2 separate regions of the Homo sapiens genome follow, and region 1 is linked to region 2. Evidence: fine-mapped expression QTL. A gene starts in region 2. The other region holds a variant in brackets. All regions are shown on one strand. Distances are from middle to middle.

Region 1 (16,283 bases), 45 kb after region 2:
GCCGGGTTGGTCTCCAACTCCTGACCTCTTAATCCGCCCGCCTCGGCCTCCCAAAGTGCTGGCATTACAGGCGTGAGCCACCATGCCTGGCCCATCAGTTGATGTAGTCTTAAGGGGACAAGAGTACATTTAATATTTGGTTGTGAGGTTCTCTGGAAGTGACAAAACTGCTTTCTATGGAGAGTTAGGAATTTTTTTTTTTTTTGAAACGGAGTCTCGCATTGTCACCCGGGCTGGAGTGTAGTGGCTTGATCTCGGCTCACTGAAACTTCCGCCTCTTGGGTTCAAGTGATTCTCCTGCCTCAGCCTTCCAAATAGCTGGGATTACAGGAGTCTGCCACCAGGCCAGCTAATTTTTTTTTGTATTTTTAGTGGAGACAGGATTTCACTATGTTGGCCAGGCTGGTCTCAAGACTCCTGACGTTGTGATCCACCTGCCTCGGCCTCCCAAAGTGCTGGGATTACAGATGTGAGCTACCGTGCCCGGCCAGGAATTTTTTGTGCTATAAATCATATTTTCCTTTTATTAAAGGCAGTGTCAATATCTATAGTATAATTTTGAGGAGGCTGGCTATTTATTGCTGTGTAGAAGCTGGCTTATTAGTGGTCAAGGGGTCATCTAGAATTGACTATAAAGATAGTATTGAGCAGAAAATTCTTAAAATACCTGCATATTTGTTTCAGTCATTAAATTAATGGAAAAAATATAAAAAGAAATATCACAAGTATGCTATGGGGTTCTACCTTAGGGCATTGAAGGTTGAAAAACATTTATTTTCTTATCTTCAGATTAGCATCTCATATCAATAGCCAATAGCTTAAAGCGCTTTTTACTTACTAAACCAGGTCAGAATTTCTCTCTCTCTCTCTTTTTTTTTTTTAGACAGAGTCTCTGTCACCCAGTCTAGAGTGCAGTGGTGTGATCTCGGCTCACTGGCCTTTCTGTTTAAGTGATTCTCCGGCCTCAGCCTCCTGAGTAGCTGGGATTACAGGCATGTGCCACGACACTTGGCTTATTTTTTGTATTTTTAGTAGAGATGGGGTTTCTCTGTGTTGGTCAGGCAGGTCTTGAACTCCTGACCTCAGGTGATCTGCCCGCCTCCGCCTCCCAAAGTGCTGGGATTACAGACGTGAGCTACTGCGCCTGGCCAGAATTTCTTTGTCTAGAATGTGGTTAGCAACTTTTATAAAAACGCATTATTTGCATTTGATTAGCATGCAGTACCCATTCACAGTTCAAAGCTAGTATAGAATTATATCACATGTATGCCCATGAGCATGGAGAAACTATTTTCTTTTTATTTTTTTAAGTTGGAGTTTTGCTCTTGTTGCCCAGGCTGGAGTGCAATGGTGCCATCTCGGCTCACTGCAGCTTCTGCCTCCTGGGTTCTAGCAATTTGCCTACCCCAGCCTCCCAAGTAGCTGGGATTACAGGCACTCGCCACCATGCCCAGCTAACTTTTTTGTATTTTTAGTAGAGAAGGGGTTTTCCCATGCTGGCGAGTCTGGTCTTGAACTTCTGGCCTCAAGTGATCTGCCCGCCTCAGCCTCCCAAAGTGCTGGAATTACAGGCATGAGCCACTGTGCCCGGCCTTTTTATTTTTTAAATTATTTATGTATTTATTTTGAGACAGGATCTCACTCTTGCCCATGCTTGAGTGGTAAGGAGTATGGGATTTCTTGTGCCGGTTCCTTCACATCCTCACTACACTTATCTGCCTTTACAGTGGCTCGATCATAGTTCACTGCATAGCCTTCTGGGCTCAAGGGGTCTTCCAGCCTCAGCCTAATATAGGCACATGCCACCATGACTGGCTAATTTTTTTTTTTTAAGTTTTTTTTTGTAGAGATAGGGCCTTGCAGTGTTGCCCAGGCTGAGGAATTTTATTTATGTTTATTTTATTTATTTATTTATTTATTTATTTATTTATTTATTTATTTATTTATTGAGATGGAGTCTTACACTGTCACCCAGGCTGGAGTGCAGTTGCGCGGTCTCAGCTACTGCAAGCTCCGCCTCCCGGGTTCATGCCATTCTCCTGCCTCAGCCTCCCGCGTAGCTGGACTACAGGCGCCCGCCACCACGCCTGGCTAATTTTTTGTGTGTGTTTTTAGTAGAGGCGGGGTTTCACCATGTTAGCCAGGATGGTCTCGATTCCTGACCTCGTGATCCACCCACATCGGCCTCCCAAAGTGCTGGGATTACAGGTGTGAGCCACCATGCCTGGTCTAGAAATTATTTTATATTTTATACCATTGCCTTATAAGTTCTCAAGCAACTGGAAAATACAATCAGAACGTATTCCTCAAGATTTCAAGGATATTTTACACAAAGTTCTATTGTCTGATTCCTTAGCAGTTGTTACTACTGTTTCCCTAACCTCTAATCTTCTATTGGGTTATTAGTCTTAGAATTGAATTTTGAGAGGTAAGGGCTTGAATTTGAACATAGAAATTTATACAGGTCTGATCAGTAGTTCTTGACATTGTATTATCTGGAAACAAATCTTTAGAACTGAGCTTAAGATGTTTAATGACATTTTGTAGACAGAGTATGATTTCAGTGTAGTTGTTTTTGTTTCTTTCTAGATCTAGTTCAGAGATGAAGTATATCAACTTTTTTTTCCTTTTTGACCCAATGCTAGCAGAAAAACAACACCTTTTAATCATATTTAGTATTTGAAAATGTGTATACAGGTTCCTTTTTATTTTATTTATTTCTTACAGGTTCCTTTTTAATCAGCTTTATTGAGATAGAGTTCATATACTGTATGGTTCATACCACATATGGTTCATATACCATACAGTATATGAACTCACTTTAAGAGTATAATTCAGTGGGTTTAAGGGTATAATTCATTCATTTTAAGGGTATAATTCAGTGGCTTTTAGTATATTTTCTTTTTTTTCTTCTTTTTTTCTTTTTTCGAGACAGGGTCTTGCTCTGTTACCCAGGCTGGAGTGCAGTGACGCAGCCTCAGCTCACTGCAACCTCCACCTCCCAGGTTCAAGCGAATTCTCTTGCCTCAGCATCCTGAGTAGCTGGAACTACAGGCTCACGCCACCACACCCAGCTAATTTTTATATTTTCAGTAGAAACAGGGTTTCACCATGTTGCCCAGGCTGGTCTCGAACTCCTGGCCTCAAGTGATCTGCCTGCCTCAGCCTCCCAAAGTGCTGGGATTACAGGCATGAGCCACCGTGCCTGCCTGTTTTGTAGTGTATTCAAACAGAGTTGTACAACTGTCACCACAATCAGTTTTAGAACCCCAAAAAGAAACCCTGTACTCTTTACCAGTCACTCCCTATCTTCCGTCCACTAACCCCTGGCATCCACTAATTTACATGACCTCTATGAATTTGCCTATTCTGAACATTTTATAAATGGAATTCTAAATACACTACCTTTTATATCTGGATGCTTTTACTAAGCATGTGTATTTTTGAAATTGACTTTAAAGCTTGTTGGCCCCTGGAAGAGTAAATTACTCTCCACCCCAAGTATTCCCTCTACCCCTCAGCTTTGCCTGTAAGTTTCTTTTTAAAAAAATCACACATACATTGTTGTAGTAGATTTAAGAATAAGTATTTTGCTGACCCAAGGTTCTTTTGCTTCTTTCTAGATCAGTGCCTTGCAGGTTTTATTTTACAGAGCTTAATAGAATCAGAAATCTCTTTAAAACTCCAGTCTCATATCCAGTTATCACTCACCATCTCTGTGTTTGCAGCAATAGCCAGGCCTGGCCCAGAGGGACTTGATCTCCACTTTTGGTTTTTAGACTTTTCTGTGGCTTTTACCACCTGCTGTGTATCCTTGACCTCATACTGCTGGACTCCTTTGGATGGATACCAGCAGGATGGTTCAGGCTCCAGTGGGCACTTTTTAAAATTCTCTCCTTCTGTTCAGATAGACAGAGCTCAGGCAGATCACCAAGTCTGTTGCCTGTGTAACCAGGAAAGAGATGCTAGTTTTCTTTTAGGCACTCCCATTTGTTTCTGTTGGAACCTTCCTCACTTAGTTGATGGAAGGGAAGCAAAAGACCCAGAACTCCATCTCAAATTAATGACTTAACAATTCTTGAATTTTCTCTTATCTCCTAGTTAACTCTTTTTCTTATCTCCAGGAGGTCAGTTTTAATTATTGTTGTTTATTCATTTATTTTCATGGAGACAGGGTCTTACTGTGTTGTCCAGGCTGGCCTTGAACCCCTGGCCTCAAGGAATCTTTTCACCTCAGCCTCCCAAAGTGCTGGAATTACAGGCATGAGTCACCACACCCAGCCTGATATTTTTCAGTTGATGTATCATAGTTGTGCCTAAGCATAATTTTTTAATTTTAATTTTTTATTTTTGGGGACAGGGTCTCCCTCTGTCGCCCAGGCTGGAGTGCAGTGATGCGATCTCAGCTCACTGCAACCTCCACCTTCTGGGTTAAAGCGATTCTCCTGCCTCAGCCTCCCGAGTAGCTGGGACTACAGGTACCCACCATCACACCCGGCTAAATTTTTTGTGTGTATTTTAGTAGAGACGAGATTTCGCTGTGTTGCCCAGGGCGGTCTCGAACTCCTGAGCTCAGGCAATCCGCCTGCCTCGGCCTCCCAAAGTGCTGGGATTACAGGCATGAACCACCACGCCCGGCCAAGCGTAATATTTTTAAGGGTCATCAATGTTGTGTCATGAATCAATCAGTGTTTCGTTCTTTTTTATGGTTGAATAATATTCCATGGTATGGATTTGTCACATTTTGTTTATCCATTCATTAGTTGATAGACATTTTGGATTTCCACTTTTTTTTTTTTTTTTTGCTATTATAAATAGTGATACTATGTACAAATTTTTGTGTGGAAATATGTCCTCATATCTCTTGGTTATATACCAAAGAGTGGAAGTGCTGGGTCATATGGTAACTACGTGTTTAACATTTTGAGAAACTGCTAAACTGTTTTCCAAAGTTGCTGTACCGTCGTACATTCCTGCCAGCAATATATGAGGATGCCAGTTCCTTCACATGTTCACTACACTTATCCACCTTTTTTATAATAACTAATGGTGGGTGTGAGATGGTATCTCATTGTAGTTTTGATTTGTATTTCTCTGATGGCTAAATGGCTAATGATGTTTGAACTTTTTGTTTGAGACAGAATCTCACTCTGTCCAGATTCAAGCGATTCTCCTGCCTCAGCCTCCCTAGCAGCTGGGATTACAGGCACATGCCACCACACCCAGCTAATTTTTTGTATTTCTAGTAGAGACAGGGCATTACCATGTTGTTCAGGCTGGTGTCGAACTCCTGACCTCAAAGGATCCGCCTCCCTGGGCCTCCCAAAGTGCTGGATTACAGGCTAGAGCCACCATGCCAGGCCTTATGTTTGAACATCTTTTATGTGCTTATTGGACATTTGTGTATCTTCTTTGGAGAAATGTCTGTTCAAAGTCTTTGTCCATTTTTAATTGGATTGTCTTTTTGTCTTTTGATGTGTAAGAGTTCTTTATGTGTTTTGGATACAAGTTTGTTAGATATATGATTTGCAAATCTTTTCTCCAATTTTTGTGGACTTTTGCTTTCTTTTTTTGTTTTGTTTTTGTTGTTGTTGTTGTTGTTGTTGTTTTGGTCGGGGGACAGTCTTGCTCTGACCACCCAGGCTGGAATGGAGTGGCGCGATCTTGGTTCACTGCAACCTCTGCCTCCTGAGTTCAAGCTATCCTGCTTCAGCCTCCCGAGTAGCTGGGACCCAGGTGTGTGCCACCACTCCCAGCTAATTTTTTATTTTTAGTAGAGACCGGGTTTCACCATGTTGGCCAGGCTGGTCTTGAACTACTGACCTCAGGTGATCTGCCTGCCTCAGCCTCCCAAAGTGCTGGGATTACAGTCATGAGCCACTACACCCTGATTCTTTTTGCTGGCTTTCTTTCTTTTTTTTTCTTTTTTTTTTTGAGACGGAGTCTCGCTCTGTTGCCAGGCTGGAGTGCAGTGGCATGATCTCGGCTCACTGCAACCTCTGCCTCCCGGGTTCAAGCCATTCTCCTGCCTCAGCCTCCCGAGTAGCTAGGACTATAGGCACATGCCACCATGCGCAGCTAATTTTTGTATTTTTAGTAGAGACGGGGTTTCACCATGTTGGCCAGGATAGTCTCGATCTCTTGACCTCGTGATCCGTCCGCCTGGGCCTCCCAAAGTGCTAGGATTACAGACGTGAGCCACCACACTCAGCCTCTTTTTGCTTTCTTGATGGTGTCTTTTGAAACAAAAGTTTTTACTTTTGATAAAGTCCAATTTGTCTATTTTGTTTGTTTGTTTTTGTTAAGAAGCTTTGCCTAACCCAAAGTCACGAGAATTTTCTCTTAGGTTTTCTTCTAAGAGTTTTATAGTTTTAGCTGTTTCTGTGATCCATTTTGAGTGAATTTTTGTGAATGGTATGAGGGAGTGATCCAACTTCATTCTTTTGTGTGTGGATATCAAGTTGTCCCAGCACTATTTGTTTAAACCACTGTTCTTTTCCCCCATTGAATTATCTTGGCATCATTGTCAGAGATAAATTGACCGTAAATGTGAGGGTTTTATTTCTGAACTCTCAAGTCCATTTCATTGGTCTACATGTCCCTATGCCAGTAATACACTATCTTGGTTACTGTAGCTTTTTAGTACGTTTTGAAATGTTTTTAAAATTTGTTTTTCATCTAAATTTTAGGATTAATTTGTCAATTTCTGCACAAAAGGCACCTGGGTTTCTATAGGGGTTATGCAGAATCTGTAGATCAACTGGGGGAGTATTACAGGCATGAGCCACCGTGCC[T/C]GGCTGACTGAGTTTTTCATAGATGTACTCTATCAGGTTTAGGAAGTTCCCTTTTATTCCTAGGTTGTTGAGTCTATTTTATATTACTTTTTTAGAGACAGTCTTGCTCTGTCCCTCAGGCTGTAGCACAGTGGCTCAATCATAGCTCACTGCAGCCTTGAACTCCTAGGTTCAAGAGATCCGCCTGCCTCAGCCTTCTTAGTAGCTGGGATTACATGCATGCACCACCATACTGGGCTAATTTTTTAAAATTTTTTATAGAGACAGGGTCTTATTACTATGTTGCCCAGACTGGCATTGAGTCTTTTTATCATTAATGAGCACTGAATTTTGTCAAGTGCCTTTATAATACCTATTGTGATGATCATAGGGTTTTGTTCTTTAGTCTACCGATACGCTATATTGCATTAAGTGATTTTTTTGAATGTTAAACCAACCTTGCATTTTTTTGGTGTATAAGTCTTATTTGATCAATGTGTATTATCCTTTTATATGGTGCTGGATTTAGTTTGCTACTATTTTGTTGAGGATTTTTGTGTCTATATTCATAAGAGATATTGGTCTGTAGTTTCTTGTGATGTCTTTGTCTGGTTTTAGAATCAGGGTAATGCTGGCCTCATAGAATGAATTGGGAAGTGTTGTCTTCTTTTCTATGTGATGGGAGAGTTTGTGAATCATTGGTATTAATTTTTCTGTAAATGTTTGGTAGAATTCACAAATAAAGGCATCTGAGCCTGGGCTCTTCTTTGTGGGAAGTTTTTGGCTTTTTTTTTCTTTAAAAATTTTCATTGTGGCTGGGCATGGTGGCTCACGCCTGTAATCCCAGCACTTTGGGGGGCCAAGACGGGTGAATCACCTGAGGTCGGGAGTTTGAGACCAGCCTGAGCAACGTGGAGAAACCCCATCTCTACTAAAAATACAAAATTAGCTGGGCATGATGGTGCATGCATGTAATCTCAGCTAATTGGAAGGCTGAGGAGGGAGAATCACTTGAACCACGGAGGCAGAGGTTGCAGTGAGCCTAGATCGTGCCATTGTACTCCAGCCTGGGCAACAAGAGCAAAACTCTGTTTCAAGGGAAACAAAGTTTTCATAACATAAAAATTACCATCTTAGTCATTTCTTTTCTTTTTTTTTTTTTGTTGGAGACGGAGTCTTGCTCTGTCACCTATGCTGGAGTGCAATGATTGCAGTCTTGGCTCACTGCAACCTCTGCCACCTGGGCTCAAGAGATTCTCCTGCCTCAGCCTCCTGAGTAGCTGGGATTACAGGCATGCGCCACCATGCCCAGTTAATTTTTGTATTTTTAGTAGAGACGGGGTTTCTCCATGTTGACCAGGCTGGTCTCTAACTCCTCACCTCAAGTGATCCGCCCGCCTCGGCCTCCCAAAGTGCTGGGATTACAGGCATGAGCCACCACGCCCGGCCTTAAAAATTTTTTTAATGTACAGTTGAGTAGTATTTAATACATTCACATTGTTGTGTACCCAGTTTCCAGAACTCTTCATCCTACAGAACTGAAACTCCATACCCATTAAATGAGTCCCCATTCTCTTTCCCCCAGCTCATGGCAAACAGCATTCTATTTTCAGTCTCTATGAATTTGATTAGTTTAGATACTTCATACTGTAAGTGGAATCATATGGTATTTGTCTTTTAGTGACTGCCTAATTTAAAAAAAATTTTTTTGAGACGGAGTCCTGCTCTGTCGCCCAGGCTGGAGTGCAGTGGCACCATCTCTGCTCACTGCAACCTCCACCTCCCAGGTTCAAGTGATTGTCCTGCCTCGGCCTCCCACGTAGCTGGGATTACAGGTGCTCGCCACAACACCCGGCTAATTTTTGTATTTTTAGGTAGAGACTGGGTTTCACCATGTTGGCCAGGCTGGTCTCGAACTCCTGACCTCAAATTATCCACCTGCCTTGGCCTCCCAAAGTGCTGGGATTACAGGCGTGAGCCACTGTGCCCAGCCTCCATGTTGTTTTTCACAACACCTGTATCATTTACATTTCCACCAACAGTACACAAGAATTTCAGTTTCTCCACATCCTTGCTAGCAGTTGTTATTATCTGTTTTTTTTTAATGGTTTCTTTTTTCCTTTTTCTTTTTTTTTTTTTTTGAGACGGTCTTATTCTTGCTCATGCTGGAGTGCAGTGGTGCAATGTGATAGCTCACTGCAGCCTCAACCTCTGGGCTCAAGCAGTCCTGCCACCTCAGCCTCCACATAGGTGGGACTGCAGGTGTGCACCACCACTTGTGGCTAATTTAAAAAATTTTTTCGTAGAGACAGAGTCTCACAGTGTTACCCAGGCTGGTCTTGAACTTCTGAGCACAAGTGATCCTCCCACCTCAGCCTCCCAAAATAATGAGATTAGAGACATGAGCCAACATGCCCAACCAGTTTTGTTTGTTTGTTTTGTTTTGTGTTTTTGAGACAGAGTCTCACTCTATTGCCCAGGCTGGAGTGCAGCGGCATGATCTCAGCTCACTGCAACCTCCGCCTCCCAGGTTCAAGTGATTCTCATGCCCCAGCCTCCTGAGAAGCTGGGATTACAGGTGTACCACCACACCCAGTTATTTTTGTATTTTTAGTAGACATGGGGTTTTGCCATGTTGGCCAGGCTGGTCCCGAACTCCTGACCTCAAGTGATCTGCTCCCCTCAGCCTCCCAAGGTGCTAGAATTAAGTTTTTCTTTCTTTCTTTCTTTCTTTTTTTTTTTTTTTTTGAGACAGAGTCTCACTCTGTCACCCAGGCAGGAGTGCAATGGCACGGTCTTGGCTCATTGTAACCTCTGCCTCCCAGATTCAAGTAGTGATTCTCCTGTCTCAGCCTCCCAAGTAGCTGGGATTACAGGCATGCACCACCACGCCCAGCTAATTTTTTGTATTTTTAGTAGAAACGGGGTTTCACCATGTTGGTCAGGCTGATCTCAAACTCCTGACCCCAAGTGATCCACCCGCCTTGGCCTCCCAAAGTGTTGGGATTACAGGCGTGAGCCACTGTGCCTGGTTTTATTTTTATTATTATTATTTTTAATAGTTCCTATTCTAATGGGTATGAGGTAGTGAGGTGGGTGGTTGTGGTGTTTTTATGAATGTTTAATTGGAAATGGGTGGCCATTGTGTGCAGGAAAAACCTCCTAAATTGTGTCAAACTCCTGGAAAATGAAATATCATTCCAGTTGCAAGAATATCTTTTTTTTTTTTTTTTTTTTTTTAAGACAGAGTCTCACTCTGTCACCAGGCGGGAGTGCAGTGGCACGATCTCGGCTCACTGCAACCTCCGCCTCCTGGTCCGCCTCCCGGGTTCAAGTGATTCTTCTGCCTTAGCCTCCCAAGTAGCTGGGACTACAGGCGCGTGCCACCACTCCTGGCTAATTTTTTTGTATTTTTAGTAGAGATGGGGTTTCACCATGTTGGCCAGGATGGTCTCAATCTCTTGACCTAGAGATCCGCCTGCCTCGGCCTCCCAAAGTGGTGGGATTACAGGGGGGTCACCGTGCCCAGCCACAAGAAGATCTTGAGCATGTGAATGATCAGAAATGATTTAGCCTATGTAGGCACTAGGCCAGGTAGTGAAATTCAGGGAAAATAATTCAGATGCTTCTGAGCTATCACTTATGAACTAAGAAACAGCTTAAAGCCATTATAGTGTGTTTCCTGAAGATGAAAGCATATGGTAAGATGAAATAGTGATTATTTTTTAAAAATTACTACTCCAGAAAGGAAAAGTTTACTAATTTTTATTACTAAAGTTTACTGTTGGTGGGTGCGGTGGCTCACACCTGTAATCCCAGCACTTTGGGAGGCCGAGGCAGGCGGATCACCTGAGGTCAGGAGTTCGAGACCAGCCTGACCAATATGGTGAAACCCCATCTCTGCTAAAAATAAAAAATTAGGCCGGGCGCGGTGGCTCATGCCTGTAATCCCAGCACTTTGGGAGGCCGAGGCAGGTGGATCACGAGGTCAGGAGATTGAGACCATCCTGGCTAACACGGTGAAACCCCGTCTCTGCTAAAAATACAAAAATCAGCCGAGCGTCTTGGCAGGCACCTGTAGTCCCAGGTACTCAGGAGTTTTGAGACGGGAGAATGGCGTGAACCCGGAAGGCGGAGCTTGAAGTGAGCCGAGATTGCGCCGCTTCAGTCCAGCCTGGACGACAGAGTGAGACTCTGTCTCTAAAAAAATAAATAAATAAAAATAAAAAATTAGCTGGGTGTGGTGGCACGCACCTGTACTCCCAGCTACTCGGGAGGCTGAGGCAGGAGAATTGCTTGAACCCGGGAGATGGAGGTTGCGGGGAGCCAAGATTGCGCCACTGCACTCCAGCCTGGCGACAGAGTGAGACTCTTTCTCAGAAAAAAATATGATAATTAAAAGTTGAGACGTTCTTCGCCGAGAGTGGTCGGGGTTTCCTGCTTCAACAGTGCTTGGACGGAACCCGGCGCTCGTCCTGCACCCCGGCCGGCCGCCCATAGCCAGCCCTCCGTCACCTCTTCACCATGCCCTCGGACTGCCCCAAGGCCCCCGCCGCAGCTCCAGCGCCGCGTAGCCACCACTGCCGCTGCCGCCGCCTCTCCTTAGTCGCCGGCATGACGACCGCGTCTACCTCGCAGGTGCGCCAGAACTACCACCAAGACTCAGAGGCCGCCATCAACCGCCAGATCAACCTGGAGCTCTACGCCTCCTCCATTTACCTGTGCGTGGCTTACTACTTTGACAGCGATGATGTGGCTTTGAAGAACTTTGCCAAATACTTTCTTCACCAATCTCATGAGGAGAGGGAACATGCTGAGAAATTGATGAAGCTGTAGAACCAACGAGGTGGCCGAATCTTCCTTCAGGATATCAAGAAACCAGACTGTGCGGGGAGAATGCGATGGGAGAGCGGGCTGAATGCGATGGATTACATTTGGAAAAAATTGTGCATTTTGCATTACATTTGGAAAAAAATGTGAATCAGTCACTACTGGAACTGCACAAACTGGCCACTGACAAAAATGACCCCCATTTGTGTGACTTCATTGAGACACATTACCTGAATGAACAAGTGAAGGCCATCAAAGAATTGGGTGACCACGTGACCAACATGCACGAGATGGGAGCGCCCGAATCTGGCGTGGCAGAATACCTCTTTGACAAGCACACCCTGGGAGACAGTGATAATGAAAGCTAAGCCTCAGGCTAATTTCCCCATAGCCATAGGGTGACTTACCTTGTCACCAAGGCAGCGCATGTATGTTGGGGTTTCCTTTACCTTTTCTATAAGTTGTTCCAAGACACCCACTTAAGTTCTTTGATTTGTACCATTCCTTCAAATAAATAAATTTGGTACCCTCCCCCCCCCCAAAAAAAAAATGTACTGTGGGCTGGCGTAGTGGCTCATGCCTAAATCTCAGCACTTTGGGAGGCTGAGGCGGGAGGATCACCTGAGGTCGGGAGTTTGAGACCAGCCTGGGCAACATGGTGAAACCCCGTGTCTACTAAAAATATAAAAACTAGCCAGTCATGGTGGCACACACCTGTAATCCCGGCTACTTGGGAGGCTGAGGCATGAGAATCACTTGAACCTGGGCTGCGGAGGTTGTAGTAAGCTGAGATCATGCCACTGTACTCCAGCCTGGGTGACAGGGAGACATTCTCTCTCTCAAAAAAAAAAAAAAAAAAAAAAAACAAAACAAACCAACAAAACAAAGTAATCCAGGAACAACAACATGATGAAGGACTGCATGCAGGACTCAGTGATGGATGGTGGAAGACAGCCAGGAAGTTAAGCATGACTCTGGTATTAAGTGTTGTCTGGGAGAGTTAAGATTCCATTTACAGAAATAAGACCTGTAGGGGAAGCTCTTGATTTTTTTTTTTTTGCAGACTGCTGATTTCCTGATTACATGTGTTAAGTTTGAGGTATAGAGAGAAAGAACATCCTGGCCGGGTGCAGTGGCTCACACCCGTAATCCCAGCACTTTGGGAGGCCAAGGTGGGCAGATCACGAGGTCCAGGAGATCGAGACCATCCTGGCCAACATGGTGAAACCCCGTCTCTACTAAAAATACAAAAATTAGCTGGGCGTGGCGGCGCGTGCCTGTTATCCCAGCTACTCAGGAGGCTGAGGCAGGAGAATTGCTTGAACCCGAGAGGCAGAGGTTGTGATGAGCCGAGATCGCGCCACTGCACTCCACCCTGGCAACAGAGCTAGACTCTGTCTCAAAAAAAAAAAAAAGAAAGAAAAAAAGAACATCCTGTAGAAACAGGCAGTCAGAGGTATAGAACTACACAGAATCCAAGAGATCTTTCAAGAAAAGTGACATGCAGCAAGAGAAACTATCAAGGGGGTAAACAACCTATAGAATGGGAGAAAATATTCACAAAGTATACATCCAACAAAAGTCTAATATCCAAAATCTATAAGGAACCTAACAAGCAAAAAGCAAATAACCCCCTTAAAAAGTGGGCAAAGGACATGAACAGATACTTCTCAAAAGACGTACATGTGGCCCACAAACATGAAAAAACGCCCATTTCTAATCATCAGACAAATGCAAATTAGAACCACAAAGAGATACCATCTCACACCAGTCAGAACAGCTTTTGTTAAAATGTCAAAAAATGAGAAACGTTGGTGAGGCTGCAGAGGAAAGCAGACACTTGTACACTGTTGGTGAAGGTGTAAATTAATTTAGCGTAGGCACAGTCAGTTTGGAGATTTCTCAGAGAACTAAGAGTGGAACTACCATTAGACCCAGCAATCTGATGGCTGGATATACGGCCAAAGGAAAATAAATCATTCTGCCAAAAGAACATATGTACCTGTATGTTCATTGTGGCACCATTCACAATAGCAAAAACATTGAATCAACTCATGTGCCCATCAGTGGCGGACTAGAAAAGAAAAGAAAATATGGTACATAGCCATCATGGAATACTATGCACCCATTAAAAATAATGAAATAATGTCTTTGCAACAACATGAATGTAGCTGGAGGGCATTATCCTAAGCAAACTAACACAGAAACAGAAAACCAAATACTGCGTGTTCTCACGCAGTGAGAGTGGGAGCTGAACATCAAGTACACATGGATGTAAAGATGGCAACAATAGACATGGGTCTACTAGAGGTGGTGGTGCGGCAGGGTGGGGGTGGGGGTTGTGTGGCAGAGGAACAGCTGAAAAACTACCTATTTGATACTATACCCAGCACCTGGGAAACGGGTTCAGTCATACCCCAAACCTCAGCATCACACAGTATACCTTTCTAACAAACTTACACATGTATTCTGTGATTCTAAAATAAACATTGAAAAATAAAAAAAAAACTGACATGGTTTGTACTGTTTAATCTGACATAATGGCTAGGGGAAATGAAGTCTGCAGAATGGCTGTTTACGGATGTTGTTGTTGTTGTTGAGATGAGGTCTCACTATGTTGCCCAGGCTTGAACTCCTGGCCTCAAGCAGTCCTCCTGCCTTGACCTCCCAAAATGTTGAGATTACATGCATGAGCCATTGCCAAAACGGCTATTTGGATTGCTGTTAAGGTTATTACATTCTCTGTGTAGTAAGACCTTGAAGGAGAAGGATTTGAGATCAGGAGTTTAAGAAAAAATGTTAATCTAGGAAGAGAGGATAATTTCTGTGTTTGGCCAGTTGCAATGGCTCACGCCTGTAATCCCAGCGTTTTGGGAGGCCGAGCTGGGCAGATCACTTGAGCTCAGGAGTTTGAGAAGAGCCTGGGCAACATGGTGAAGCCCCGTCTCTACTGAAAATACAAAAATTGGCTGGGCGTGGTGGCAGGTGCCCACTGTAATTTCAGCCACTCAGGAGACTGAGGCAGGAGAATTGCTTGAACCTGGAAAGTGGAGGATATGGTGAGCCTAGATCGCGCCACTCTACTCCAGCCTGGGAGACTCCATCTCAAAAAAAAAAGAAAACAAGATGCTGAAATGAAGTAATTACCACAGTCAATGTGATCCTATAACTTTGTTTTGTTTTAGAGATGGGGTCTCCCTCTGTCACCCAGGCTGGAGTGCAGTGGTGCATCATAGCTTTCTGCAGCCTCCACCTCCTGGGCTCAGGTGGTCCTCTTGCCTCAGTGTTCCGAGTAGTTAGGACTGACTGCAGGTGCATGCTGCTATGCCTGGCTAACTTTAAAATTTTTTTGTAGAGGCGGGGTCTTGCTATGTTGCCTAGGCTGGTCTCCAACTCCTGATCTCAATCAGTCCTCCTGCCTACCTTCCCAGAGCGCTGGGATTACAGGTGTGAGCCATCGCACCTAGCCAATCTCATAACATTTTATGACTAGCAAACTTAGTAGTTCTGATTCAGGCATAAATCAGTTGGTGGGGTTATACAAGGTTGGGTGAGTTTTTCTAGATTTCTAAGAGACCATGTTGAAATACTTGGCTCTGTCTCAGTAAGGGATAGAGAGAAGCAAAGGTGTGGGTAAAGGTTATGAGCAGACATGTAAAGGGGGCAAATTAAAGTGTTTAGGGAAGGTGAAACAGTTCCAAATCATAATATAGATCCCAAGCCTCACCAAGAAGTGAAGGAGAGGGTAATTGTGCGATAGTTCTCAGGACTGAGACCTCAAGGTGTAAGACGAATCTTTATTGTGGGTGGTCCTCTTTGAGAAAAAGAACAAAAAAGAAAAATGTGAAATGGGTGCTAAATTTCAGAGCAGAATATACATATATGTGTATGTGTGTGTGTATATATATATATATTTTTATGTAGCAAATTCCAGTTTACAAAGGGCTTTTATGTGTTTTGCATCATTACAACAGTTCTGTGATGATGTGGATGTGGTGGATATTGTAATTCCACATCACAGAGGATAAAATTGAGGCACACCATAAGGTAGCTGACCAGAGATCATGCAGTATATGGTAGAATGGCAACTTGAGGCCAGTTCTTAGGTGTGTTTGTTGTCCTTATTCAGAATGGAACAATGTGGTTTATTGTACAAAAATTTAAAAATGAATGTCGAAAAGTAGAAATTATTACCCAAATCTCACCCTCTGTGGTTGTTTGCTATGTGATCTTCCAGACTCACATATACATGTAGATAATTTTTTTTTTTTTTTTTTGAGACGGAGTCTTGCTCTGTCGCCCTGGCTGGAGTGCAGTGGCGCAATCTCGGCTCACTGCAGGCTCTGCCTCCTGGGTTCACGCCATTCTCCTGCCTCAGCCTCCCAAGTAGCTGGGACTACAGGCGCCCACCATCACCTCCAGCTAATTTTTTGTATTTTTAGTAGAGACGGGGTTTCACCATGTTAGCCAGGATGGTCTCGATCTCCTGACCTCATGATCCGCCTGCCTGGGCCTCCCAAAGTGCTGGGATTACAGGAGTGAGCCACTGTGGCCGTCCTCACATGTAGATACTTTTTTAACTTTTTGCTTTTAACCACTTAAGATATTGTGAACTCATTTCCAAATTAACATATATTTGCTTTTAACAGCTACATTTCCACTGGAGTTACGTACCATTTG
Region 2 (12,829 bases):
GACTTTCTCTTCTAGCTATGCCCTTCTCAGATCCCCTTCTTCCCTCTACCTCTAGAACTTCAATATCTACAAAAGGATCTTCACTGACATGGTGAGCTCTCCTGGAACCAACTGTGCCGAGGCCTATCATAGCTGGGCTGATCTTCGAGATGTCCTCTTCAACCTGGTGAGGAAGCGAAAGGGCTGCTCCGTCTGTCCTTGTCCTCATCTCTTCTTTGATGCACATAAACCTTTATTCTCAGATGTATTTTACCTTCCTCTGCCAGGTGGCTATCAGAGACCACTCTATGGCCCTGGCACTCCTCTGACCCCTGAGCCAGGCTGTGCTGTCTCCCTCCTCTAGTGTGAAAACCTGGTGAAGTCCAGTGAGGCAAACTCTCCAGCCCATGAGGAGTTCAAGACGATGCTGCTGATCGCTCATTACTATGCCACGCGCTCTGCAGCCCAGAGTGTCAAACAGCTGGTGAGATGTAGGGGGTCGAAGGAACACTCAGTCAGAAGGGCTCATCTGCAAATGTATAAAGCTGAATTGATTCACGTTCTGGATTCTTCAGCTTGGGCTCTTGAATCTCCCCACCTGTCTTTCAGCTTCTCTTCTGTCTAAACAAATCTTTAGCCCTTGCTGAGGTTTTCTTCTTCCGACCTTTTTAGGGCTCTGTGCCCACACAGCCTCAGCCTCATTATGTTTAAACATCCAAATCCCATGATTTCTTTATTCACCTCTTATAATGTACACATATTCTGGGCTTATTTTTGACTGTTCACTGTATATTTATTTCATGTACTTGGATGATAGAATTCTAGAAGTGGAAAGAACCTTAGAAACAATCTAGGTGGGTGGGTGTGGTGGCTCACCCCTGTAATCCCAGCACTTTGGGAGGCCGAGGCGGGTGGATCACTTGAGGCCAGGAGTTCGAGACCAGCCTGGCCAACGTGGTGAAACCCCATCTCTACTAAAAACATAAAAATTAGCCAGGTTGGCCGGGCGCGGTGGCTCACGCCTGTAATCCCAGCACTTTGGGAGGCCGAGGCGGGTGGATCATGAGGTCAGGAGATCGAGACCATCCTGGCTAACAAGGTGAAACCCCGTCTCTACTAAAAATACAAAAAATTAGCCAGGCACGGTGGCGGGCGCCTGTAGTCCCAGCTACTCGGGAGGCTGAGGCAGGAGAATGGCGTGAACCCGGGAAGCGGAGCTTGCAGTGAGCCGAGATTGCGCCACTGCAGTCCGCAGTCTGGCCTGGGCGACAGAGCGAGACTCCGTCTCAAAAAAAAAAAAAAAAAAAAAAAAAAAAAATTAGCCAGGCATGGTAATGTGCGCTTGTAGTCCTAGCTACTCAGGAGGCTGAGGCACGAGAATTACTTGAATCCGGGAGGCAGAGGTTGCAGTGAGCTGAGATGGCACCACTGCACTCCAGCCTGGGCGAAAGAATTGAACCTAGGCCCAGGTGTCTTGTTCAGAGAAAAAGAAAAAAAAAACTAAGACCCAGAACAGCTTGAGAATCCAGAGCAGTTTAATAATAATTGTTGTTTTTTAGTTCTGTGGCTGCCTTACAGGATCATTGGTCTGGTAGCTCAGTCACTTTAGTGCCATATTCATAATGCTTTGACTTTAATCCCAGGAAACCGTGGCTGCCAGGCTTTCTGTTTCACTCTTGCGTCACACCCAGCTACTACCTGTAGACAAAGCCTTCTATGAAGCAGGCATTGCTGCCAAGGTGAGCTGGGACAAGGAAGGGTGGGGCAGATAGGAGGAAGTTAAAGGTTGGAAAATAGAATATCCCTTCTGCTCTGGTAGAGGAAAGCTGAGTGTAGGGCTGATGTTACGGAGGATGTAGTCCTCCTATGTCTTCCTGGATTTTTCTCCCTGGATCCCAGAGAAATAGCATTCAAGCCCAGCTTGCTCACTCCCATTTGCATCTGGATCCCAGAGAAGTAGCATTCAAACCCAGCTTGTTCACTCCCATTTGCAACTCTTCTTTGCTGCAGGCAGTTGGCTGGGATAACATGGCATTCATCTTCCTCAATCGCTTTTTGGACCTGACCGATGTGAGTAGGGAAGCTGTGCCCCGAGGGTGGAGGTTTTTGCCAGTCGCGAGCTGTGCCTAGTTCATGGTTGCCCACTCTACTGCAGGCAATCGAGGAAGGGACTCTAGATGGCCTTGACCACTCTGATTTTCAGGATACAGACATTCCCTTTGAGGTGCCACTCCCAGCTAAGCAGCATGTACCGGTAAGGGCACAGGGTTGGAAAACCGGAAGGCCTCACCAGTGTGAGTGCCTTGAGGAGGGAGAATATCTTTGTGCTGCCATCTTTGGAAGGACCTCAGCCCTCACTGTTTTTTCAGTGAAAGTAGAAGCAAAATAGAAAGAAAAGGCTGTGACTGCATCCCCCAATCCAAGGAGGATTCGTGGCTAAAAGCTGGTATACAGGATGAGGGCTTAGCAAACCCCCTCCTCACCCATCCACCCCAACTTGTCCTGCCCTGCCCTGTGTGAAGCTACCACTCCCTTCTTGTCCTTTCCAGGAGGCTGAGAGAGAAGAGGTTCGAGACTGGGTGCTTACAGTCTCCATGGACCAGCGGCTGGAGCAGGTTCTGCCTCGGGATGAGCGTGGCGCCTACGAGGCCTCCCTAGTGGCAGCGAGCACTGGTGTTCGAGCCCTGCCCTGCCTTATTACAGGTATAGAAGCCTACAGCACCCCAGATCCTGTGGTGGGTAGAAAGCAGCAGGATCAATAAACTTAATTTTACTAGGATTCAGTAAAGGGTACAAAAGACAGGACTGTGCTTTCTACCCCCCAGGCTGCTCCTCATTTTTCCCTCCTCAATCTCTCTCAAACCCCAGTTCATCATTTTTTCTTCCTCCACAGGATACCCCATTCTGAGGAACAAAATTGAATTTAAGCGGCCAGGGAAGGCTGCTAACAAGGACAACTGGAATAAATTCCTTATGGCCATCAAGGTTAGAGAGGAGGACTTGGAGAATGAAGGCAGAGAGGGCAGCACTAAAAAAAGAAAAAAAAACAAGTCTGGGTGCAGTGGCTCATACCTTTAATCCCAGCACTTTGGGAGGCCAAGGTGGGCGGATCACCTGAGGTCAGGAGTTTGAGACCAGCCTGGCCAACATGGTTAAAACCTCGTCTCTACTAAAAATACAAAAGTTAGCCGGGTCTGGTGGCGTGCACCTGTAATCCCAGCTACTCAGGAGGCTGAGGCAGGAGAATCGCTTAAACCCGAGAGGCAGAGGTTGCAGTGAGCTGAGATTGTGCCACTGCACTCCAGCCTGGGCGACAAAGCAAGACTTTGTCTCAAAACAAACAAAAAACCCACATACACACTAGAAAGATGGGTGGGATTACAGGAAGGCAGATGCAGACCCTGAAGCCTGCGATGGAGCTGATTTTGTATTTCCAGCATTAACAAGTTCCTCTCATGTTCTTCCATTTGCTCACAGACCTCCCACAGCCCAGTGTGCCAGGACGTGCTGAAATTCATCAGTCAGTGGTGTGGAGGGCTCCCCAGCACCAGCTTTTCCTTTCAGTAGTTGGTAGAGCTGAGGAAGAGTTAGGGCCTCTCCCTCATTAAAGTTTTATAAATAATTGAGACCACTGTATTCTTTGATCAAAGTCATTCCCAACACCACACAGTGCCTTTTCCCCAAAAGGAATCATAATCAAGTAGAAGAAAAGAGAAGTTACTTTATTACAATTTGTTATCTCATCCCGAGGTCAGGGCCCCTTGCTTAGTGGGAAAAAAAACCCTTTAGGACTGAGTCTCGGAACAGCACCTGCTGGACAGAGGGGAGAACCAACCCAGGTCAGAGGGGAAAGCAGCATGGCAAGACCTAGACCCAGTTCTAAGAGCACTTCCTTGTCCCCGCTCTTACCCGGGCCACCACCTTCAAGGCCCATTACCTGTCCTAAACCCAACTTCTCTGTGATGCCCGGATTTCTTGATTTTGATCCAGTAGCTGCTCATTTTCCTGCCTTTTACATTTAGGAGATTCAAGCTCTGTCATTTCCTCTAGCTGCAGAAGAAGATAGAGTTAGACACCCTCGCCCTGAATGATAGGTCAGCATCTTTTTTTTGTTTTGTTTTTTGTGACGGAGCCTCACTCTGTTGCCCAGGCTGGAGTGCAGTGGCGTGATCTCGGTTCACTGCAACCTCCGCCTTCCGGGTTCAAGCGATTCTCCTGCCTCAGCCTTCCAAGTAGCTGGGATTACAGGCGCCCACCACCCCACCTAATTTTTTGTATTTTTAGTAGAGACGAGGTTTCACCATGTTGTCCAAGCTGGTCTCAAACTCCTGACCTCAAGTGATCCGCCTGCCTCAGCCTCCCAAAGTGCTGGGATTACAGGTGTGAGCCTCCGCACCCGGCCGGTCAGCATCTTTTCAACACAGCCAGTCTCTGTGGAATGAACCCTTCCTGTTTGCCTTCCTTACCTGCCCCTGAAGTCCGTCCTTCCTGCAGGGCCCAACTCCACGTAGAGTGAGTGCAGCCACACAGCAGTAACCAGATAGAGCAGCCTCCCCTGCAGACATGAGCAAAGAAGGGATCCAGAGAGCCAAGGCTGTATCCTGAAAAGCAAGAAGGATGGGGAGTAGGAGGGAGTAGGGCAAGTGCAGCAAATAGGGGAAATTAAAAGGGCAGGACCAAGGCTTTGTAGACCACAAGAAGGAAGAGAATGTGCTCACATAGATTCTTGTGGGGTCAAAGGGGCAGTCAGTATGTCCCGGCCCCTCATCCAGTGGTACCAGAGGATCCAGCAGTCCTGGGTGGCAGTCAGCAATAAGGCGGCGGCCACCGTTGGCCACAGTGAGTGACACAGCAAGAAGGAGGCCCAGGGAGCAGGCAACGGACAAGAGCAGGTTCACCAGAGCTAGTGCCAGCAGGACCCAGTGCTGGCAGGGACAGGAGATCAGGGTGAGCAGCCTGGGCCTGGCTAACTCTCCCAGTGACTAGACACCCAGTTTCTCTGAGGCTCCTCCAATCTATTGAAAGACCAAGCTCAGTCAGCCCCCATTTCCCTGACTCAAGCCTACTCGTTAAAAGCTCCAGGGAAGTCCCTCTCACCAGTGGAGGGCGAAGAAGGTTCCTGGACGCCAGGAGGGCCACAAGTCCCACGGAAACGCTCTGTGGAAGACACAAAGCCTTTGGCCTGCTGGGCTCTCCGGGAGCCCGGCCCCCGCCCGGGTCGCCTGCCGCGCTCACCAGCAGCCCCGAGCCGACAGAGATGACATTGGCTACGGTGTACTCCGGCGTGACAGCGCCGCGGGGATTGGCCACGTGCCGCAGGACGGTGCCATGCAGCACGGCCCCCAGCAGCAGGTTCACGTGGCCCACCAAGATCAGCGCGAGGCCCACACGCATCAGCCGCCTGGGCCCCCGGGCGGCGTCTGCAAAGCACGGGGGAGGGCAGGGTTGAGTCGGGCGGGGAGGGGAGAGGCGGCTCGCGGCGGGTTAACCGCGGGCAGTAGGACGGGGCAAGGGTAGCCCCAGGGTAAGGAGACGAGACGCCAGGGCCCGGAAGTTACCGAAAGCGCAGAGACTGCAGCGCCTCATCCCGTCCGCCGCGCCAGCCGCAGGGCCGCTGTACCTGGGCCCGGCCCCGCCCCAACCTGGGCCCCGCCTCCGTCCCGGGTCCCCCTCCCACCTGGGCCCCGCCTCCGCCCCGGGCCCGCTCCCCCTGGCGGGAAAGGCGCGAACACACGACGCTTTTAGCAAAAAGTAGACTTTTATTACAGCAGCAACTGAGGCGAATCGAATGGCCCCCCAGGGCCACCACTGCAGCACCACCTTTCTCTCCCGCCCCGGCCGCCCCAGCGGGATTGTAGAATTCGGCTCCCCTAGTGCCCGTGGGCCTCCTTTCCACACAGGCTGGGCGGGAGCCGGCAGATCAGCGACTAGCCCCCAACTAGAAGGCGGCTGCTGAGAAGGCCCAGGCCCACGTCTGTGCAAAACAAGTAAACAAAGTGCAGAGGGGAGGAAGAGAGGGGAGGGGAAAGGATGATGCTCAGAACCAGGGAGCCCCCCCAGCCCTCCTGAATAATAAAGGAGGGAAGGGGCTTCACAGGGTAATACTGACTGGGGGGAAGGGACAGGAGGGCTGCAGCACGTCCAGGGACAGCCACAGCGCAGATCAGGGCCTGGCCCGAGTGAGCTCTAAGAGGAGACGGTGACAGCGGCTGAGTTGAGGGTACTGTTCCTGGCAAAATTGAACTTGTTCAAGGTCTCTTCTAGCAGAGAAGTCAACCGGCTCTGGTCAGCCTGGGGGAGAAGAGCTCAGTAAGATGGGGGCTGAGAGAAGAGAAGGCATGGGGGCAGCCAGGGCAGATGAAGGCAGAAACCTCACCTCACTAATGAAGCCCAGCTGCACCAGCTCAGCCGCCAACTCGGGGATATTCTCATCTGACAAAGAAACAGGAGGGGGTGAGTACAGTACGGGACTGAGGGACCTGGGGCCCTTCAGACAGCCCCACTAGGGCTAAACTGTCAGTCAGATCCACCCACTGCTTTAGGGTCTAAGATAGTCATTCTATGTGAGTCAATGTGTTACTGCCTTGTCACCTCCCCCACCCCTGAATATGTCCCTAAAAGATAAGGCTCATAGACTCTCCATCCTCTGAGGGAAAGGAGAGACTCACTTGGCATCAGGTCACAGCTCAGGTGCCGGTTCAGTTTGTCCTCCAACTTCAGCAGAAGTGTCAGCTGGAGAATAGGACAGTCAGAAAATGAGACTTTTCTTCCCTACCCTCTGGCTACTAGCCCTGCGCAACCCTAGCCCTGAGCCTTACGTGGTGTTTGACTCCCTCCTCCACCGACTCAATGTTGCACTGCATCAGCACCACCTAGGGAGGGAAGAGAGGGTCACTCTAGAGACCTGTCCATAAAAAACCCAATACCTAGACGTCTTTCGAGCCCATAGGGCATGGCTGCTAGGGAGCATTTTCTCTAAAGGATAGAGCCTTATTTGAGATGTCCTCTCTCCCTTCCACCACAACCATGGAGACAATCCACACCCACACAGCCCCCACCTTGCGAGTCTCCACCTCAGCTGGTTCAGGTGTCGGAGTCTTGACAGAGGGGGGCACGACAGGTGATGTCACCTCCTCCTGCTGTGGCTGCTGGGGCCGAGGCAGCCCAAAGGCTGTCAGAGGATAGATCCCATTCCTGGAGGGAGATGAAGACAGGTCACATGGGCTCTGTGAACGCCTTAGGATACCCAACCCCGCCTGCTTCCTCAAGAAAGCCTGCTTCTCACTCTGCTCTCACCTGACATCTTCAAGGAATTTATCTAATTCCAGAGCTGGTGACTGAGAGTACCTGGACGAGAAAAGAGAAAGGAGATGGAAGGAAAGAAACAAGCAAAATAGCAAATTCAAGCATTCCCAGAGAATGGACAGTTTACAGAGCCTCAAGAGTGGTCGTGACCAATCTGCCCCTTTCAGACCCTCTCAGTTACTCACAAAGTCTGAACTGGTTCTCTTCCTGGTCCTGCAGGGATTTCAGCCAGTACGGCACTAGTATCCATGTTTTTGGTGATCTCCTCTAGAGCGTTCTCTGGGATCATGTCTGGAGGGCATGATGGAGTGGGATATTATGAAGGGATAGTCAGATTAAATGTCAAAGAAGGCATGCAGGCAAAGGGGTAAAGAATCCCTTTGGAGGCCTGGCACAGTGGCTCATGCCTGTAATCCCAGCACTTTGGGAAGCCGAGGCGGACAGATCACTTGACGCCAGTTCAAGACCAGCCTGGCCAACATGGCGAAACCCCATCTCTACTAAAAGTACAAAAATTACCCAGGCATGGTGGCACATGCCTGTAATCCCAGCTCTTCGGGAGGCTAAGGCACAAGAATCGCTTGAGCCTGGGAGCTGGAGGTTGCAATGAGCTGAGATCAAGCCATTGCACTCCAGCCTGAGAGAGAGTGAGACTCTGTCTCAAAAAAAAAAAAAAAAAAAAAAAAAAAAAAAAAAAAGAATCCCTTTGGAAATAAAGAGGAAAACAAGCATGCCAGTGATAGTTACAGGGCTCCAGATTGGAAGACTATTCCCCATAGGGCCAAGACGACTCACGTTGGTGTCCCACAATGCAGTGGGCCGCAAGGAGTTTGAGCGAGGGCACTTCAAACAATGCTGGGTGGAACAGAAGTTCTCTGGCTGTTGGTCTGCGAGCAGGCTCAGACTGCAGGCACTTTTGAATGAACTCCTAGAAAAGGAAACAAGGAACTGGAGCAGGCATCTGGCAAGCCCCCAGTGTGTTCATCTTTATAGCTCTCATTCTACTTAGCACAAGGCTTTGTACATAGTAGGTGCTCAGCACTTGCTGAGAAAACAATATATTGAAAAATGCACCTGAAAGGGCTTCAAAAACTGTAAGATATTATATGAAAGATACCATCCACTGCCTTTCTGGTTTTAATTATTTTTCTGCTCTCCAACCACAAGCTTTCTTTTTTAATGTTCACAATTTTTTTTTTTTTTTTTTTTGAGACGGAGTCTCGCTCTGTCGCCCAGGCTGGAGTGCAGTGGCGCAATCTCAGCTCACTGCAACCTCTGCCTACCGGGTTCACGCCATTCTCCTGCCTCAGCCTCCCGAGTAGCTGGGACTACAGGTGCCCACCACCATGCCCGGCTAATTTTTTGTATTTTCAGTAGAGACGGTTTCACCATGTTAGCCAGGATGGTCTCAATCTCCTGACCTCGTGATCCACCCGCCTCAGCCTCCCAAAGTGCCGGTATTACAGGCATGAGACACCGCGCCCGGCCCCACACTTTCTTTTTCCTTAGTTTCTACCTCTCTGCTTTATTAGTCAACTCACTGCCTATCTTCTTTTCTAAATCTTGCCAAATTTAGCTTCTCTCTTCCCAAACTTACCCAATGTGATCAATATTCACCATTTTTTTATTTCACAAGCCTAGTATCACAATTTCCTTTGCCCACAATCACTGAATTCACCGAATTTCCCAGGATTCCTCTAACGATTCTGCCTTATTTTCTTTCTTTCTTTTTTCTGAGACAGGGTCTTGCTGTGCCAACCAGGCTGGAGTACAGTGGCACAATCACAGCTCACTGCTGCCTCAACCTCCTGGGCTCAAGCAATCCTCCCACTTCAGCTTCCAGAGTAGCTGGGACCACAGGCATGTGCCACCATACCCAGATAATTTTTATTTTTTCATAGAGATAGGGTTTTACCACGTTGCCCAGGCTAGTCTCGAACTCCTGAGCTCAAGTGATCCTCCCACCTCAGCCTCCAAAAGTGCTGGGATTAAAAGTATGAGCCACCATGTTCCACCACCGCCTCCTTTTCTACCTCCTGCATGTCCCATGACAATTAACCTGCTTTCCTGCTTTTAACCTTGAAGGCTAACAAGGTCACATACCTAATCTTTCACTTGAATACTCCACCTCAATGTTGAAGTAGAAACTTACTCCACACTATCCTCCTGACTTCCCACTAGTCTTCTTTTCTCTCCTGTTCCCTACTATACTTATCTAATGAGTTACAAACTGTTCTTGTTTGGACCTTCCTGCCCAGGCTCTGCTTACTATAGTCTATCAACTGATTCATAACCTTATGTCTTTTAAATCTTAGCTCATTATTTCAGGCCACCGTCCCTAACTAAAACTGTATAAATATAAAATCCCAAACAACTGGTTTAATTTAAATTGACTGATGTGCTTAAAAATATAAAAATGGCTGTCTGAGAGTATACAGCAATGGCCTGAAGTAACCATCAAATTAATTTACCTCCATGTAGACACATTCAAATTAACATACTTTTTTTTTTTTTTTGAGACAGTCTCGCTCTCTTGCCCCAGCTGGAGTGCAGTGGCCCAATCTCAGCTCACTGCAATCTCCGCCTCCCGGGTTCAAGCTTGCCTCAGCCTCCCGAGTAGGTGAGACTACAGGCACACACCACCATGCCCAGCTAATTTTTGTATTTTTAGTAGAGACAGGGTTTCACCATGTTGGCCAGGCTGGTCTCAAACTCCTGACCTCAAGTGATCCACCCGCCTCAGCCTCTCAAAGTGCTGGGATTACAGGTGTGAGCCACTGCACCCAGCCAACACACAACTTTTTTTTTTTTCTTTTTTTCTGAGACGGAGTCTACCTGTGTCGCCCAGGCTGGAGTGCAGTGGCGCGATCTCAGCTCACTGCAAGCTTTGCCTCCCGGGTTCATGCCATTCTCCTGCCTCAGCCTCCTGAGTAGCTGGGACTACAGGCTCCCGCCACCAAGCCTGGCTAATTTTTTTTGTATTTTTAGTAGAGACAGGGTTTCACCATGTTAGCCAGGATGGTCTCGATCCCCTGACCTCGTGATCCGCCCGCCTCGGCCTCCCAAAGTGCTGGGATTACAGGCGTGAGCCACCATGCCCGGCTTCCAACACACAACTTTTAACCCCAGCATCATCCATCTTAACCCCCTTACCTGTGTGTTTCTATGCAAAAACATGGTAGGCACCTCCTAAGAAAATGTTTATAGATTTTTCGTGTCCTTTCTGTTATGTTCCCTAGCTCTTAGGAGCATATACCCAGTGGGTACAAAGGAAGAAAAACCAGAAGACATTTGAAGGTCAGTTGAGGAGGGAGTGATCCTGAAGATCCTTACCCTCTGTAATGGGTCTTCTAGAAGCTGGATGGCACTGCTGATGGCTTCCTGTGGCACATATGAGGACTCTCCATTGCCCTGAATCTCCAGCACTGCCATCTTCAGTGAGGAAGAATAAAAAAAAAAGTAGACACCTAAGAACTTCAGTGCTCCCACAATCACTCCCTCCAAGCCAGCGCCTTACTTGTCTTCCCTCCATTCCCAATTCCATCTTCTCATCTGACCCCTTTCCCCCCTCCCCTCCAGTCCCCTCACCTCCAGTGCACACATGCCAAAGGAGTAGATGTCCACTGCTGTTGTCACATTAGTGACTTCTAGGGAAAACAGAGAAGGCTTTGGTTAATCAGAGGATTGGGGGCTAGGGTTGGCAGGAATGCCTTAGGAAAAAAAAAAAAGAAAAGAAAAATATTTTGTATGCTGGTAGAGAAGGCCTAGAAGTTTCAGTTATATTGCCTCTGTACCTCAAGTTATAAGGTGCAAAAGCAGGGGGATGAGGACAGGGCAGAGAAAGCAGGAAGGCTCACCTCCATACTCTGGTGCAAAGAAGTGTAGATTCTTCTGCTCTTCTCGACAAGTCTTCACATGATTGTTGATAGTGTCAGGAGCCACTGGGAGTAGGGGAGACACCCACAATCTGACCATCATCAATGAAGAATAGTCTCACTCCAGAGAGAGGCCCCAAAAGCCAAATTCTCTCCTGAAGTCTCCTTTCTGATGACCCTCAACAGGCACAAACATATTCCCTTTCCTGTCCTGAACTACAGACCACACATGGATGCCACCTACCTCCCCTTTCTTAGGCCTACTGCTTCTCATCTAATGTCCCTAAATCAGGAGCAACAAAAGCACCAGACTAAATTAACAGATACACAGGGGCTTCAGGCTGGTCTAGAAGCAATGAAGTTTAAGGAAAAATTTTCACTTGTACTGCGTTCACCTTCCCTAAATCCCAGGTACCTCTAATCCCTGCTCACATGAAAATATTTGGTTTTAGTTTTTTCATCCACCCTGCAAATAACATAAAAACACAGGCAGCCCTTCCTAATCTGGGACAATTGGAGACCTCAGGAACTTGGATAAATAAGGATAAGAAGTATTAACATACAGCTCAGGAGGTAGCCTCCTTCTTACCCACCTTTGCTGAGTGAAACTCAAAACAGCTCAGAATTGAGCTAATACCCTTGAATCTGTTCCACTTTTAATCCACCAAAACATTTTAGACTCCTGTTCTACCCCCTTATTCCTCAACACTGTCTGCCACAGAGCTGAACGAGGAACCAGGACCAGGCCCAATTTGGACTCACTCAGATCATAAACAATGACTACAAGTCACAGAGAATCTGGGAGCACAGTATGATCTGGGAACTAGCCTGATGATGAGGGAGAACATGAATCCAGGAGGTAAGTGGCCAGCCAGGCAGAATCCACAGGAAACAAGCAGGTTATGAAGGGGCAAGCAGGCGGAGGGCTGGCAGGGCAGAAGCTAAGCAGGCATAATTAGGCAGGGAAGATAGGGGAAGAGGGTTTGCTCCCACGACTGCATGCACTGGGCAGCCGCCAAGGGAGCAGAGGGAGCACAAACAGAGCCCCAAGTGGGGCAGAGGGAGCTCTCACCATTAGCAAAAATCCTATGAAAGACTGTTGGGAACAGAGCAGCCCGTAAGCGGGAGGGAGGAAAACAGAGAAAAGTTGTGAGCGATGGAGCAGCCAAGCCCCAGACAAATGGACACACAAATACCACACAGACACAGCACACAGAAATGTTGTACACTGCATACAATACACAGCAAACGAAAGCACTCACAGCAGGAACAGCCTGGAACCTCCTCTGGCAGGGTCTGGCCCCAGGACTCAAATCAAACCTCAAACCTATCTCTTGCCCTTTCCCAGCCTCTTATCAGTATCTCTGTATTAACCCCAATTTTCCCTTCAAAAAGGTGTAAGATTATATATCCTACCCCCTCTCCACTAATTAACTGGCCTCTCCTATTAATTACTCCTAGCAAGGTCCTTTCTCTTCTCACCAGCCCACACCTCAGAATTTTGCTCTGTTATCCCCCATTCCTTTCATCTTACCCCCATGGTTCCCAAATTCCCGAGGCTCCCCTGCCCAGAACCTCTCCCTCCCCTCACCAGAGCCAATCTTGATGAGTCCGTTGTGCTGGATGAAGATGGTGTCACAGGTCAGGTTCCCATGGATGATGGGGGGGTC

What was found. PIP is the estimated chance that this variant, and not a neighbour inherited with it, causes the effect.
Region 1: its variant is fine-mapped to the expression of KRTCAP3 in whole blood (INTERVAL, PIP 0.96).

The regions. Positions count from the first base shown.
Region 1 is chr2:27,388,472-27,404,754 of GRCh38, reverse strand. The region is part of intron 1 of PPM1G (protein phosphatase, Mg2+/Mn2+ dependent 1G); the gene reads left to right. It also overlaps the pseudogene FTH1P3. Among named protein-coding and RNA genes, the nearest start is that of PPM1G, 13 kb to the left of the region's middle. RefSeq lists an enhancer at 8,950-9,451. The variant T/C (reference allele first, on the strand shown) is at 6,795.
Region 2 is chr2:27,435,149-27,447,977 of GRCh38, reverse strand. It overlaps KRTCAP3 (keratinocyte associated protein 3), which reads right to left and starts at 5,597. Exons shown (of 7, transcript NM_173853.4): 1 at 5,538-5,597; 2 at 5,215-5,399; 3 at 5,077-5,136; 4 at 4,698-4,904; 5 at 4,446-4,580; 6 at 3,917-4,029; 7 at 3,681-3,792. The coding sequence starts at 5,565. The coding sequence ends at 3,922. NRBP1 (nuclear receptor binding protein 1) reads right to left here. Exons shown (of 18, transcript NM_013392.4): 7 at 12,751-12,829; 8 at 11,142-11,225; 9 at 10,873-10,931; 10 at 10,618-10,716; 11 at 8,080-8,212; 12 at 7,470-7,575; 13 at 7,276-7,326; 14 at 7,038-7,173; 15 at 6,798-6,851; 16 at 6,648-6,711; 17 at 6,356-6,411; 18 at 5,719-6,270. The coding sequence ends at 6,166. IFT172 (intraflagellar transport 172) reads left to right here. Exons shown (of 48, transcript NM_015662.3): 41 at 56-166; 42 at 344-463; 43 at 1,623-1,718; 44 at 1,990-2,049; 45 at 2,135-2,233; 46 at 2,529-2,682; 47 at 2,873-2,964; 48 at 3,457-3,601. The coding sequence ends at 3,546. RefSeq lists an enhancer at 4,920-5,462.